Linked DNA regions of Homo sapiens. The protein of the gene in region 4 purifies or fractionates together with the protein of the main gene of each other region. This does not show direct contact. Each region holds a gene or a part of one and is shown on either strand. Other genes may lie near its edges.

What was found. The genes of interacting proteins can lie anywhere in the genome.
Region 1: the proteins of TAGLN (region 4) and RTCA purify together in Homo sapiens (co-immunoprecipitation; one large-scale study listed by IntAct). This does not show direct contact.
Region 2: the proteins of TAGLN (region 4) and USP32 purify together in Homo sapiens (affinity purification with mass spectrometry, with the first as the bait; one study listed by BioGRID). This does not show direct contact.
Region 3: the proteins of TAGLN (region 4) and TRAP1 purify together in Homo sapiens (co-immunoprecipitation; one large-scale study listed by IntAct). This does not show direct contact.

The regions. Positions count from the first base shown.
Region 1 is NC_000001.11:100,264,845-100,269,015, reverse strand, and holds the start of RTCA (RNA 3'-terminal phosphate cyclase), read right to left. Parts: upstream 2,801-4,171; 5' UTR 2,641-2,800; coding exon 2,596-2,640; intron 2,493-2,595; coding exon 2,392-2,492; intron 1,517-2,391; coding exon of another isoform or gene 1,478-1,516; intron 865-1,477; coding exon 721-864; intron 1-720.
Region 2 is NC_000017.11:60,210,634-60,214,133, reverse strand, and holds part of USP32 (ubiquitin carboxyl-terminal hydrolase 32), read left to right. Parts: intron 1-471; coding exon 472-553; intron 554-2,035; coding exon 2,036-2,110; intron 2,111-2,619; coding exon 2,620-2,758; intron 2,759-3,015; coding exon 3,016-3,121; intron 3,122-3,500. UniProt on the Homo sapiens protein: Deubiquitinase that can remove conjugated ubiquitin from target proteins, such as RAB7A and LAMTOR1.
Region 3 is NC_000016.10:3,711,025-3,714,524, reverse strand, and holds part of TRAP1 (heat shock protein 75 kDa, mitochondrial isoform 1 precursor), read left to right. Parts: intron 1-3,500.
Region 4 is NC_000011.10:117,205,167-117,207,964, forward strand, and holds the end of TAGLN (transgelin), read left to right. Parts: 3' UTR 1-830; coding exon of another isoform or gene 831-1,190; 3' UTR 1,191-1,514; coding exon of another isoform or gene 1,515-1,632; 3' UTR 1,633-1,900; coding exon of another isoform or gene 1,901-1,994; 3' UTR 1,995-2,298; downstream 2,299-2,798. Other genes in the region: PCSK7 (proprotein convertase subtilisin/kexin type 7 preproprotein), read right to left, coding at 831-1,190, 1,515-1,632, 1,901-1,994. UniProt on the Homo sapiens protein: Actin cross-linking/gelling protein. Involved in calcium interactions and contractile properties of the cell that may contribute to replicative senescence.

The DNA.
Region 1 (4,171 bases), on a different chromosome or scaffold from region 4:
GGTTTTGCCATGTTGCCCAGGCTGGTCTCAAATTTGTGAGCTCAAGCGATCCACCCACCTCGGCCTCCCAAAGTGCTGGGACTACAGGCGTGAGCCACCGCACCTGGCCTGGTTGTTTTCTAAATGAGCCATTATCTCCCTTCTCCAAAGTTAAGTGAAAGCAATCATATTCATAAGTAGTTTGAAAGGGAATTCGACATAGCCTCTTAGCTATCAAAAGACAGATCTTTATTTAACTCACTTACACAATGATGCTTAAGTATTGAACTGGGAAGTCTCTATCAGTAATAATGAATTTCATTAATTCAATGAATATTTATTGGACAGGTGTGGTGGCTCACACTTATAATCCCAAAACTTTGGGAGGCCAACGTGGGTGGATTGCTTGAGCTTAGGAATTCGAGACCAGCTGAAAAACATGGCGAAACCTTGTCTCTTTAAAAAATACAAAAATTAGCGGGGCATGGTGCTGTGTGCCTATGGTCCCAGCCACGCAGGAGGCTGAGGTGGGAGGACCTGTTGGGCCCAGGAGTTACAGCTTACAGTGAGCAGTGATTGCACCACTGCACCCCCGCCTGGGCAAGAGGGATACCTTGTCTCAAAAAAAAAAAACATAAAAGTAGGGAAACAAGCTCATAGACATTAAGCAACTTGCCCAGAAAGTGGCAAAACCTGGACTTAAACCCAGGTTACTTAAATGGAATGTTAAGTGATACATACCCTGCTGTCTTGGTATCTGCTGTGTGGATTCCACCTTTGATCTTCTCTGGTGTAAAGGTTATTTCTGTTGAGCCAATTTCTGCCCCCTCCAGTTGCCCATCACACAAATCTCGAATCATTTCCAGTCCAGATAAATGTTGAGGCCTTCAGGTCATAATACTGCATCAAAACGTGTGCATTCAGACTGCCTACATCCCCACATTTTATGACAAATTTATAAAACTGCAATGGCAAGAAAACAGCAAGGTCTAACCACAGTAAGTGCCACATCTTCAGTGTCAGCTTCCTTTTGGGTTTTTATGCACCTAGACTACCTGCTAGTATGTATCATTTTAACACTTCCTTGCAGACCAGTTATTTCTGACTATAAATACATACCCTGATATATTGCTGCAAATTAGAAGTGTGCTAAAGAAGAAAACTAATAGTTATTTCAGTGCCACCAGTCTCGCTTGCACTTGACTGAACAATCTATGGTGCCTGTATGGGCTGAACTATGTTCCCCCTAAATTAATATGCTGAGACTGTAACCCTCCGTATCTCAGAATGTGACTATATTTGGAGATAGAGCCTTTAAAGAGATAATTAAGTTAAAATAAGGCCACCATACAATCTTACTGGTGTCCTTATAAAAAAAAAAAAAACTAGAACATACAGAGACGCTAGGGGCAAGGTACACAGAGGAACCACCATGTGAAGAGGCAAAAAGACAGGCCTGGAGCAGATCCTTTTCTCATGGCTCTCAGAGGAAACCAACCTTGTCAGGACCTTGATCTTGGACTTCCAGCCTCCAGAACTGTGAGGAAATAAATTTCTGTTGTTTAAGCTCCACTCTGTGTGTGGCATTTTGTTATGGCAGCCCTAGCAAACTAATACAACACCTACAGCCTAATGAATTGGATTCCCCTGTTGGTGAACTGGAGGGCTGCAAACTATGACAAAGGCAATTAACATTAACATATCAGTAATTGCCTTTTGGTAATTTCAAAACTGTAGACAAAAGACTGAGACCGCTGATTTATTAAAATGTAATAAATACAGAATACATACAAAGCAATCAGTGTGGCTTCAAACCTGGGTCCTCTTCTAGCAGGTGCATGTACCTGAAGCTCAACTAGTGGCATGCCCAGCTACCCAGACAGAAGAAATAAGGTCAAATGTCAAGGTGTTTCCCTCTCCACAACAGATAATTCTGGTCATAACAGCTCTCTGGAGGTATGAATGAAGGCTGGGATAACACATCTCAGGATTCTTTCCTGTTTTATGATTCTAAAACTGACAGCAGAACCAGAATGCACTGGTTATAAAACAGGGTTTCCTCTGGCGTCACAAGCATTTCTGCCCTATCTATCTTGCCAGCTCATACGTGCTGTTCGGATATTTGGAATGCCCGGTGAGGTGAGAAAACATTTTAAAAGCTAGCTCTTCAGCAAATGACACTATTTAGTCAAACAGAGAAAACTCGAGACCATTTCTAAACTCACCCCTCCAGGCTTTCAAGACTTTACAACCCAGGCCACCGCCCAGGCAGAGTGCCCCGCCCTGGATCGCCCATACCTGCGTCTGGGACCTTCTGGGTTCCACCACTCGGACTCCCGATGCCCCAGCCCGGCAGCCCGACCCCCCGATCCCCCAGCTTCACGGCCCAACTCCCCCTCCAGCCAGATTTACCTCAGGCCTGGCGTGCTCCGGCCGGCTCGGATCTTCTGCACCCGCAAGGGGAGGCCTAGGAGACAGCTCAAGGCCGTAGAGACTCTCAGGATCTGGCCGCCCTGCAAAGGTTGGGGTACAGGGAGAAGAGAAGTAAGCACACCGGTGGTGAGAGCTCCCCTCCTTAGTTAGGCTGCAGCCCCGGCCGCTTCGCTCTGTACTCACCCCTTCCATGATGCTGCCATCGACCTCCACCCGCGGCCCCGCCATGGGGGACACCCTGGGGCCCAGCCCGCAGCGACAAAGCCTCCGCCAGAGCGGGAGAAAGAAGAGACGTTGGCTCCCGCCCAGTAGTTCAGAAACCTTGGTTCATGCCTGGGGCGCAGGAGCCTGACGAGAAAGCGGAAGAAGCGGCGCCTCTCGGGACACTGGAGTCAGCAGAAACGAACCCCCGGGTTCGCCCAGTTCCGCAGTCAGTGCGCATGCGCGTAGCTCGGCTTAAAGGAGCCGCGCTGGGAACACTGCGGTCGGGGCGAGGAAGCTGCCGGGGAAGTGAGATGACGGTCGCGGGGGTGCCCAGGAGCCCTGAAAAACTTGTGCCCTGGGCACGGCAAAATCTGCAGGTTGCAGAAAGTCTCAACTGTAAGATAACTCCTCCAGTTATCCCGCAGGCTTGTGCTTTATCTCTGTTTTGTGGGTAAATATGTGTTTATATCTGTTTTCTCGAGGATCCTGGCATACCCCGAGGTGCCGACTTTTAGAGCTGAAGATGCAAGAAAGATTGGGATCCTGCGATGCACCGAACCTGTCTCTCGAAGTGTGTGCGCCCTGGTACATTGATACTCTTGGCCTTTGGTTCCTTGCGGTGTGCGTGTTTGTGTATGCGGAGTGTGTTATCTTTCTTTCTAGGGTGACACACCATTTATTTGAGAGGCGGGAAAGGCAGAATCACTAGTTTAATATTCTGAAAAGCCAAAGTTATGCCATTTTGCTTGAGAGTGAGTGCAAGCTCTTGACTCCCAGGAACAGTGCAGCTAACAATTCACCTCAGGCGAGGGCAGAAGCAATAGCCAGCTTCTTGGTTCTGCCTGTGGCTCAGTTCCTACATAATTGAGTACCAAATAATATGTAAACCTCTAGGGAAGCAAAAAAGAGTAATTCAGCTTCTACCCCCGAAGTTATTGGAGGTATAATGGAGAGACTGAGACGTAATCAATTACAATGTCATCCTCAATAATAATTAACATGTACTGTATTTAGAGTTTATTATGGGGACAATTACAATATATTAATAATATACTGTAACAATAACAGGCAACACTTATTGAGCACTTAGGTGTTGTGCACTGCATGCATTCATAACATGATAAAGTACTTACTGTTTTTACTGTTTTACAGCTTCCTGTGTTAAACAATTTGCTACAAGGTCACACAATTTTAACTAGAAGACTGAGATGTGAACCTGGGTGGTCTGATGTGAACACCACTGTCTGGTAATCCCAACGCTCTGCTGCTTTGCGACAGAGAATGTTTTAGGGAACACACAGACTATGTACTTAACCAAATCTGGAATTTGCCGTAAGATATTAATCAGAGAAGTAATGATACTTGCATTTTAAAATGAAGGCTTTGGCAGTAGGAGAAGGGTGAATAAGAGGCTTAAGAGCCTGAAGGGAGAAATGCCAATGATACAATTATCCAGCAAGAAATAATCAGAAGTTGAAGTAAGGCAATGATGGTAGGGATGGAATATAAAAAAGCTGTACCCCTATCTGACATCTTTATTGGGGGAACCCGCCCC
Region 2 (3,500 bases), on a different chromosome or scaffold from region 4:
CCTGTCTCTACTAAAAATACAAAAATTAGCTGGGCATGGCGGTGGGAGCCTGTAGTCCCAGCTACTCAGAAGGCTGAGGCAGGAGAATTGCTTGAACCCAGAGGCAGAGGTTGCAGTGAGCCAAGATAGTGCCACTATACTCCAGCCTGGGCAACAGAGCCAGACTCCATCTTTAAAAAAAAAAAAAACAAAAAACAAAACGTATTCATGTAACCAAACACCACCTGTTCCCCAAAAACCTATTGAAATTTTAAAAAAGAGAAAGATAACGCTTATGAAGTACACATTGTCTTTCTGTCATACTGCCACCTAAGTTATAAATATTTATGAACAACTATAGTAGGCCAGATATTTGTGATATGTTATATAACTACAAAGAAGTTGTTTTTTTAATTGTTACTCATTTTTATCTCTGTATTTGTTTCAAGTTTACTAACCAAATAACAAAAACATTTCCTCCTCCTTACACAGAACTACCTTACTCTTCTGGATGATGAGGATCATAAATTGGAATATTTGAAAATCCAGGATGAACAACACCTGGTAATTGAAGGTACAAGATGGAAGCATGCATCTATATTAAATTTTCAAGGGGAAGAATTTAAAGAGTTACTAATAACCCATTTTATAATTTTCTCCAAAACAACTATTATTTGATTATTATGTTTTTATGATAAAGAAACCCTTTGGAAAAAAAAGAAAAAGAAAACCCTTTGAACTCTTATGTAATCCTACCATACAATTTAGATTGCTTTAAAGGGAAAATATTCTGTTTTTAGTCATTGACTGACAAAGAATGGGAATGGTAGATAAAAAACAAGTGAATTCAGTTTACACATTTATAGTTCCTTAAAATTTTCAAGTTGCTGCTTTGAGTTTGAGTAAAAAGAACAACTTTCTTGCATAGTTAGTAGCACAGGCTTTCATTAGTCACCAACATTGGCTACTCACTGACAGAGCTATTTGTATATTCATAGATTTACACACTGGCATGCACATGCCATTAAAAACTTTTTAAGTGTATCTTTTCCCATCAAGTTTTGTGGCAACATTGTTAGCTGCCTTTGTATTAAAATGAATAGGCCGGGCGCAGTGGCTCACGCCTGTAATCCCAGCACTTTGGGAGGCTGAGATGGGTGGATCACTTGAGGTCAGGAGTTCCAGACCAGCCTGGACAACATGGTGAAATCTGTCTCTGCTAAAAATACAAAAATTAGCTGGGTGTGGTGGCACGTGCCTGTAGTCCCAGCTACTCAGGAAGCTGAGGCACGAGAATCAGTCAAGCCCAGGAGGCGGAGGTTGCAGTGACTCAAGATCACATCACTGCACTCCAACCTGGGGGGACAAAGCCAGACTGTCTCAAAAAAAAAAAAAGGAATAAATTACTCTGACAGTTGTTACAATTTAAGAAAGAATTGTAATTTCTAATGTTTTAAGTATAAGAAATTCCATTGTTTCTGAACTTTAATTACTTCTGTAGATGGTTGAGTATAATTTTACTTCAAGTAGGTAATTGAGGGATAAGATTATTCAAACCAAGTGACTTTAAAGTCCTCAATATGAAGAGTAGGAATGGTTTTAGAGCCAATTACAGGCATGTGCTGCAAAAAGATGTTTGTCAACAAAAGACCTGTATACAGCAGTGGTCCCATAAGATTATAATACTGTATTTTTAGTTGTGCCTTTTCTATGTTCTAACATGTTTAGATACACAAATACTTACCATTGTGTTACACTTGCCTACAGTATTCAATGCAGTAACATACTGTACAGGTTTGTAGCCAAGGAGCGACAGCCTATACCATACATAGCCTAGGTTTGTGTAGGTACACTCTGTGATGTTCACACAAAGACAAAATCACCTAATGATGCATTTCTCAGAATATAACCTCGTCGTTAAGCAATGTATGTACTAAAATTAACTAGATTTTAAAACTTCTGATTTAGGAATAAGATGTCTTTAAAAAAAAAAAGCAATCGAATGGGTATAAATTAGATAGATAAGAAATTAACACATTCCTATCTGTCCTTCCAGTTCGCAACAAAGATATGAGTTGGCCTGAGGAGATGTCTTTTATAGCAAATAGTAGTAAAATAGATAGACACAAGGGTAAGTCTCCAGTATTATTTTTTAAAGAGATTATTTTAAATGTATTCTTTTTTTTTCTTCTCTCAACTGTTAAAGTGCTAACAACTTTTGGTTTTCTAGTTCAAAAGTAATTAGGGCCTTCTTCTTTTTCTTTTTTCCTGAAGCAGCATTTGATGTTGGCAAACCCACCATCAAATTATTTTCTAAATTTCTTTCTAACTCTGCAATTAAATAATTTATATGTTTTAAAAGACATACTAGAAGAAGAATTGTTTGAATTATTTTGAAAAATCATAGCAATTAAAAAGAATAATTGCTGCTTCTGGGTTACAAATGAGCATGGATCATCACTGTTGCCAGACACTCCATGAAAAGCCTTCTCTAGCATTTCAGAGACCTGCTAGAGAATTATTAGCACCATTTAGCTGATTATGAGAGTTATAAAAAACCTTTTCATTGAATATAAGTAACTGTTTGTGCCATGGCATATTACTACAGCTAAGCTTTGGTTCTCATATTGTTTGTTCCAGTTCCCACAGAAAAGGGAGCCACAGGTCTAAGCAATCTGGGAAACACATGCTTCATGAACTCAAGCATCCAGTGTGTTAGTAACACACAGCCACTGACACAGTATTTTATCTCAGGGAGACATCTTTATGAACTCAACAGGTAATCTTTCTGGAGTCACTGGCCTCTTAACCTGTGACTTTGATATAAACCCAATATCACCTAAATTTCCTCTTTTTTCACCCTGTGGGAGAAAGATTTTATCTTATTTGCCCTATTTAATATGAAATAGGCCAAGGAATACATCTCTTGTTTCAAAAAGAAAAGATATTTTGATGTGAGATGCTAGGCATTTTTGCGCCCACATGATTGTGATTTATGAGAATCTTTGGCAACAAATTTTCCTCTCAAACTTCTAGGACAAATCCCATTGGTATGAAGGGGCATATGGCTAAATGCTATGGTGATTTAGTGCAGGAACTTTGGAGTGGAACTCAGAAGAATGTTGCCCCATTAAAGCTTCGGGTAAGCAGGTTAAAATAATATAAAAGTATTTAATTCCTAATAGTTGTTTAATCATTTTTCTCTGCTTGTTTTTTGTGTTTAGCCTTTTAACTTAATAAATGTTTTTGGATCCTTCACTTGGTATAAACAAAAGGTCAAATTCTTTTGCTTGTTTAAATATATGCAAAATTACTACTGTATATGTAGTGGGTAGGATAAAGACCAAAGGTACACTCTAAATTCGGGATGTCATTCATTTTACTAATTTGTCAAACATCTTATATGAAGAGTAAACCTTTTTTGGTAATACTTCACTATTAGCAGTATTCTAACTGCAAGGTGGACCTCAGAGTCTTATTAATTACATCCAATCCAATCCATTTTCAACGTAACTAAGATA
Region 3 (3,500 bases), on a different chromosome or scaffold from region 4:
ACCACACCCAGCTAGGTTTTGTATTTTTAATAGAGATGGGGTTTCACTATGCTGGCCAGGGTGGTCTCGAACTCCTGACCTCATGATCCACTAGCCTTGGCCTCCCAAAATGCTGGGATTACAGGCGTGAGCCACTGCGCCTGGCCTACCCTCAGAATATTTCTGTGAGGGGTGGGCTAGGATATCCGCTTGTGGACTTTATATTTGTCATTTTTGCCCATAACAGTTTATTCAGCAAATACATTTCCAATGCCCCCGAGTCGTCAAAGAAAATGTGACCCTGCTGTCTGGAGTCATAGGTGGCTGCTGAGCAGTGTACCAGGGCCATCTTGGTGGCCTGGACAGCACATTAGAGAAACAAGAGCTGCTTGCCCCAGGGTAAGTTTCACAGATGAGGAGCGATTTGGGCCGAGTGTCCAAGGCTGTTTTCACTGGAGGGGAGGGAGGAACGTTCCATGTCTGGAAAGCTGCAGGTGCAAGGGTAAGGAGATAGCTCTGAATAATTGGTTTGATGAAAGACTTGCGGGAGTGTGCAGGAGTGATGGTGAATGAGGCTAGCAGTTGTGTCTTTTCTGTCAGATATAAGCTTGTGCGTAGGAGCCTCATCCTGCATTCCTCAGGACAGTCACAGAGCCAGCCCTGGGCCTGGTGTGTGGGGAGCCCAGCCACGTGGCCCACCATGAGAGCTTTTCGTCAGAGCTCCAACTGTCAGAAGTGTCAGATGTGCCAGTAGAAGGATGAGGCCGCCTCCTAAAGGAGAGGGAAGACCTGGAAAGATCAACAGCAGACGCAGTCTCCCAAAGCAAACGTGATTCTGTGGTCAGGCAGGTACGGTGACGGGTTGGTCATTTTGCATGACGAGGTGACTGCCACAATCACCAAGGGTGCCGAGTCCAGTCTCCTGGTCATGCCAGATGCTCTTGTTTTCGTGAAATTGCCAGAACATGACTGAGGCAACCACGATAGGACTGGTTGGTGCAGGCGTTAAGATCTTGGGCCTTTTTGTTCTCTGTAAGCTGGAGCCTTTGCTGGAACTTCCTGTCTTGGAAATCAGAGTTGTGAGAGTAGGTCCCCTGCCAGCACCAGGAAGGTCGGGAGAGCTGGTTTCCTCACTTTGCTCAGGGCTCAAGTACTAGCTAGTTTGTTTCATCTTCCAAAAAGAGCCTCACCTGGACCCCGCTCCTGTAGGTGGTGCCTGCCTGCTGCGCCCTCCCCTTCAGTACTTCGTTTTGTTGACGGGTTTTGCCTCCTCCCTCTGCTCTCCCTTTGTTTGGAGCCTGTGCTGTTTGATTTCCGTGTCTTGTGTGCTGCACCCTTCAGGAGAATTCAGGTGAATTTCTGGTGCTCTCCGGCTGTTCTTTTCAGAGTGGAGGGGAGTAGTACTTGCTGGTCAGTTGCGACTCTGTCTGTGAAACAGCTCTTTGTGTTGCTGAGATGACGCTAGAGGTGTAGCGTCCATGACATGTTTGTCGTCTGATTAAGCTGTGGTGCTGGCACTTAGACGGCAGAGGAAGGTGTGGCCCAGCTGTCCAAGGCCACCAGGAGGACCTTCAGCTTAGTTAGGACCAAGGGAACTGAGTTATCTGAGTGCCTGAAAAAGAACACATCAGGCCGGGCGCGGTGGCTCTCGTCTGTAATCCCAGCACTTTGGGAGGCCGAGGTGGGTGGATCACTTGAGTTCAGGAATTTGAGACCAACCTGGCCAACATGGCGAAACCCCGTCTCTACTAAAAATACAAAGAAATTAGCCAGGGTGGTGGCAGGCGCCTGTAATCCCAGATACTTGGGAGGCTGAGGCACGAGAATTGCTTGAACCTGGGAGGTGGAGGTTGGAGGTTGCAGTGAGCCAAGATTGTGCCACTGCACTCCCTCCTGGGCGACAGTGCAAGACTCTGTCTTGGAAACAAACACATCAATCCGAATGTAAGAGATTAGCAAAGCGTTTATTGGTTACTGGGTGAGTAGTTGGCCTAAGCTAAGACAAAAGAGGAATCTCCAAGTATTTTGCTACCCCTTGGCAGGAAGAGAGGGAATGCAGCTTGCGGGGTGGGGATGGGGGTGTCAGGTTGATAAGAAAACTGTGGGAAAATAAACATTTACTCCTGCCCCCCATGTCAGTAAATACCATGTGACAAAGGTGAGTTCCATGAAAGAGGCTGTTACTGAGGCCTGTGATACTTGCTTGTCTCAAAATGCTGACATATCTTTTTTTTTTTTTTTTTTTTTTTTTTTTTTTTTTGAGACAGATTCTTTCTGTCGCCAGGCTGAAGTGCAGTGGCATGACCTCAGCTCACTGCAACTTCCGCCTCCTGAATTCAGGCAGTTCTCCTGCCTCAGCCTCCTGAGTAGCTGGGACTACAGGTGCATGCCACCATGGCCAGCCAATTTTTGTATTTTTAGTAGAGACGAGGTTTCACCGTGTTGGGCAAGATGGTCTCAATCTTTTGACCTTTTGATCTGCCTGCTTTGGCCTCCCAAAGTGCTGGGATTACAGACATGAGCTACCACGTCGGGCCTGACAAAGAATCTTGATAGCGATTGAAAATGTATCCATTCATACTCAAATGAAGTAAAAAGTGCTTTTGGGTTCAAAGCCAGAGAATGTTCATGGATGGCGTTTTTGGTGCCTCAAGTGTAGCCAGCTAGAACTTTTCTTACCACCGTCCTGCTTAGTCCTACTGAAGACCTGCCTTCTACTAGGAAGCTGCTCTTAGTCCACAAAGTGGCTTCCCTGTAGTTCCACAGCATTTAACAAAATAGATTTCAGGGAGTTTATTTGTGGTGTGGCTGGTTATTTCTGCTAAAACCACTAGGAATTACCATAAAAGCTGTAGCTTGGAGAAACAGTATCTACTTGCGGGAGTATTACTGCCACCTGTGTTTTTTTTGTTTTTGTTTTGGTTTTTGTTTTTTTTTTGTTTTTTTCAAGATGGAGTCTTGCTCTGTTTCCCAGGCTGGAGTGCAGTGGCACGAACTCGGCTCACTGCAATCTCCACCTCCCGGGTTCAAGCAGTTCTCCTGCCTCAGCCTCCCAAGTAGCTGGGGCTACAGGCATGCACTACCGTGCCCGGCTAATTTTTGTATTTTTAGTTGAGGTAGAGTTTCACCATGTTGGCCAGGCTGGTCTTGAACTTCTGACCTTGTGATCTGCCTGCCTCGGCCTCCCAAAGTGCTGGGATTACAGGTGTGCGCCACCGTTCCCAGCCCTGCCATTGGCTTTTTAACCAGGTGAATTCCTGTAGATTGGGTAGATTGAAAGGACATGTAGCTGAATCATTGGTTTTAAAAGGAATGGCTCAGTTACTTCATAGCCATATAATTAAGAAATGTGGCTAGAAGGTAAAAAATTGGCCAGGCCTGGTAGCTCATGCTTGTAATCCCAGCACTTTGGGGGCTGCGGCGGGAGGATCCTGTGAGTTTAGGAGTTTGAGACCAGCCTGGGCAACCTAGAGAGACCCCCATCTCTACCAAAAAACCCTTTTTTTTTTTTTTCCAATTAG
Region 4 (2,798 bases):
AAAATTCAACCAACTAGCTCAGAAGAGGGGAGAAGGCCAAGGTTGAGAGAAGAGTCACAGCCTGTCAGGCAGATAGCTGGCCTCCGGCGGGAAGGCCATTTCCCTGAGCACTTGCAGAGGAAGACAGGGTGGTGGCAGGACTGGAGTGGCAGTGGCTCCCAAGGCTCTCTCCTCCAACATGTGCATCTGCCATCTGCTCTGCAGTCCTGCCGCAGGATTCCCTAGTGAAGCAGCTCAGGCCTGGGGGAGCCGTGTGTATCCCAGCTGTGCCGGCAGCATCATACCAATCGTGGGGGTGGTGAAGGAGCCAGGGGTTCATTCATGGTTGGTTTCTGATCAGGCATCTTGGGAATGGATAATGGAGGCAGCCGCTTTCAGGACAGGCATGTCCAGGGGCTCCTCCCAGCCTCTACCCCGAAGTCCTCTTCCCAAGTGACCCCAGTGATGTTTCCATTGAGATGCGCTCCTGGCTATGGCAGGCACCTTCTCAACTTATATGTGGGAAGGGGTCCCCCATGCTTGGGGGACCTAGGCAGCTGGCTTGGCCCAAGAGAGATGAGGATGGAGGCCAAACCAAAGGGGGGCGCCAATCCCCTGTCCAACACCTTCTCACCAAAAGCTCCCGTTTGGCTGGAGGCAGACCCTGTGGCTCTGACCAGACTTCTCTGGCAGCAATCCTCCACCATTTGTATCTTAAGAAGGCCCTCACCCTCTTTGAGTGGAGTCAGAGGATGCCTCAGATTCCAGATGTAAGCATCAGAACTGCTTTCTGTCAAGAGCTCCCTAATTTTGGGAAAGAAGAGCCTGTCCCACACTGTCAGGCCCTGAGGTCAGCAGATCTGCTCCTCCTTCCCGTGCGGTACGTCTAGGTGCTGATGAGGGCAGTCCAGGGCGCTCTTGTTCTGGGACAGGCTCCAGTCCCCTTGCTCCAGCAGGTCTGGGGCAAGGAGGTCAGAGGTGGTGGGAGGGCCCCTGCTCTCTGTTTCCACTTCGTCTGGATCCTTGCTGCTGCAAAGTGGCACTGATTCTAGCTCTGTCCCTTCCTCCTTGGCTTTCCGGCTCCGATGGGGCCAGTGGCAGGGTCCACTCCTACAAACTTGATTGGAAGCCACATTCCTCTGGCTCAAATATACTTCCAGCATGTAGTAAACAGTCCAGAAGACGGTGAAACAGCCTACCAGCACCAGGGTCTGGGGCCGAGGCAAGCACCTACGTGAGGCACTGTTTCCCGAAGCCTACAGCCTTTCTCAGCCCAGGACAATGAGCTCAGAAAGTCTTTTTCCTTCTAGGGACTGCCTTTTTCACCCAAACTGTTCCCTCTGCCCCCTCCCCCGACAAGGCCTGTCCTGTAAGAGTTAGGCTAGCAGGGTAGGAGCAATGCTATGAAACCACTGCTGGGACCCAGGTCTTCCCAGTCCTTCACCCCGCAGGTCACCCTGAGAAACACACTAAGAACTCCATCCCCCAGACAGGACAGTCCCATCTACCCGCAGCTTGAGTCTTGGCCCTAGTACCTTGAGGGTGTTGGGGGTGATGGTGTAACCATCTTCCTCAGGAATTTTCAGCCCCGGTGGGCAGGGCAGGGCGAAGTCATCGTGCAGGTATTTTCCACTCATGGCACTCTCTAACAGCCTGTGGAGAAGAAAAGAGGTGAGGATGCCCCACTGACTATGGTTCCTATACCATCTGCCCTCACCCATTTTCCTGCCTTACAGGTGAAGACAGGGAAGCCCCACAGCAAAAAGGAGAGGCCCAGACTGTGAGTTCCCAGCCCGGGGCTCCATCTACCGGCTTGACGCTGGAACTGGGAAGCACAGCTGGGGTTCAGAGGGCGATGGGCTCCCTAGGCGGCCCTTCCCCTGTGACTGGCCTTCCCTCTGACACATGCGGCTTTACCCACCTTTGTCTGTCCCTGATGTCTACTGCACTCCACACAGAGCCATATAGGGTCAGCTGCCATTGCCGGAGGATGCCGACCTGGAATGACTCATCCCCTAGGGCAGCAAGGGGCAGCTCGTGAGCCACGCCCCTCTGTCAGCCATGCCAGACAGCAGAGGCCCTGCCCGCCCTGCCACCCAAAGGGGCTCAGGCCACATGGTCTGCTCCAGGAGCTGCCTCACTGTGTCCCACTGACCCCAGGTTCTGCAGAAGGGCCTCACTGGGTGCCCTTAGGGATGGAAAGGGTTGAAAGGCTGTACTCCAAAGCAGAGTCTTGCTTTTCTCTCCCGTATTTTGGGGGTTCAGCTGGGATTAGAAAAAAATGTCTTTCCACCAAATTAAAGAAAGCTTTGAAAACCACTGGCCTAGAGAATACCTAACTGACTGGAGGATGGGAGGGTGGAGCTCAATTTCCAGTCTATAGGCTGATACTAAAGATATTCACAATTCATGGATATTGTGGCCTTCACTGATATGGTGACCTTCCACAAGTCACCTCAAACCTCTGGGCCAGTTTAAAAAAAATGGTGAAATGAGTCCTGCCCTTACCTGCCTACCGGGGCTGGCCGAAGGATGGTTATACGTAAAAGGACTTGAAATGTGGTTTCGACAAGGACTTTTTGTTGCTATCCTGAGGAAAGATGGATGGGTCACTCCTCCAGGGAATATGAGAGGTAGTATAAATGAACAGTTGCAGAGAGCAATGCCCATTTCACGGATGGGCACACTCTTGGCATCAACTCTCTTGGTCCAATGGCAACCCTATATATTGCACACGGGACACTTTCTGTGGGGACTCTGAGATGCAGAGGGACCAGATAACAAGCAGGAAAGGTAGGGCCTGGTGTGAGGGCACGAGA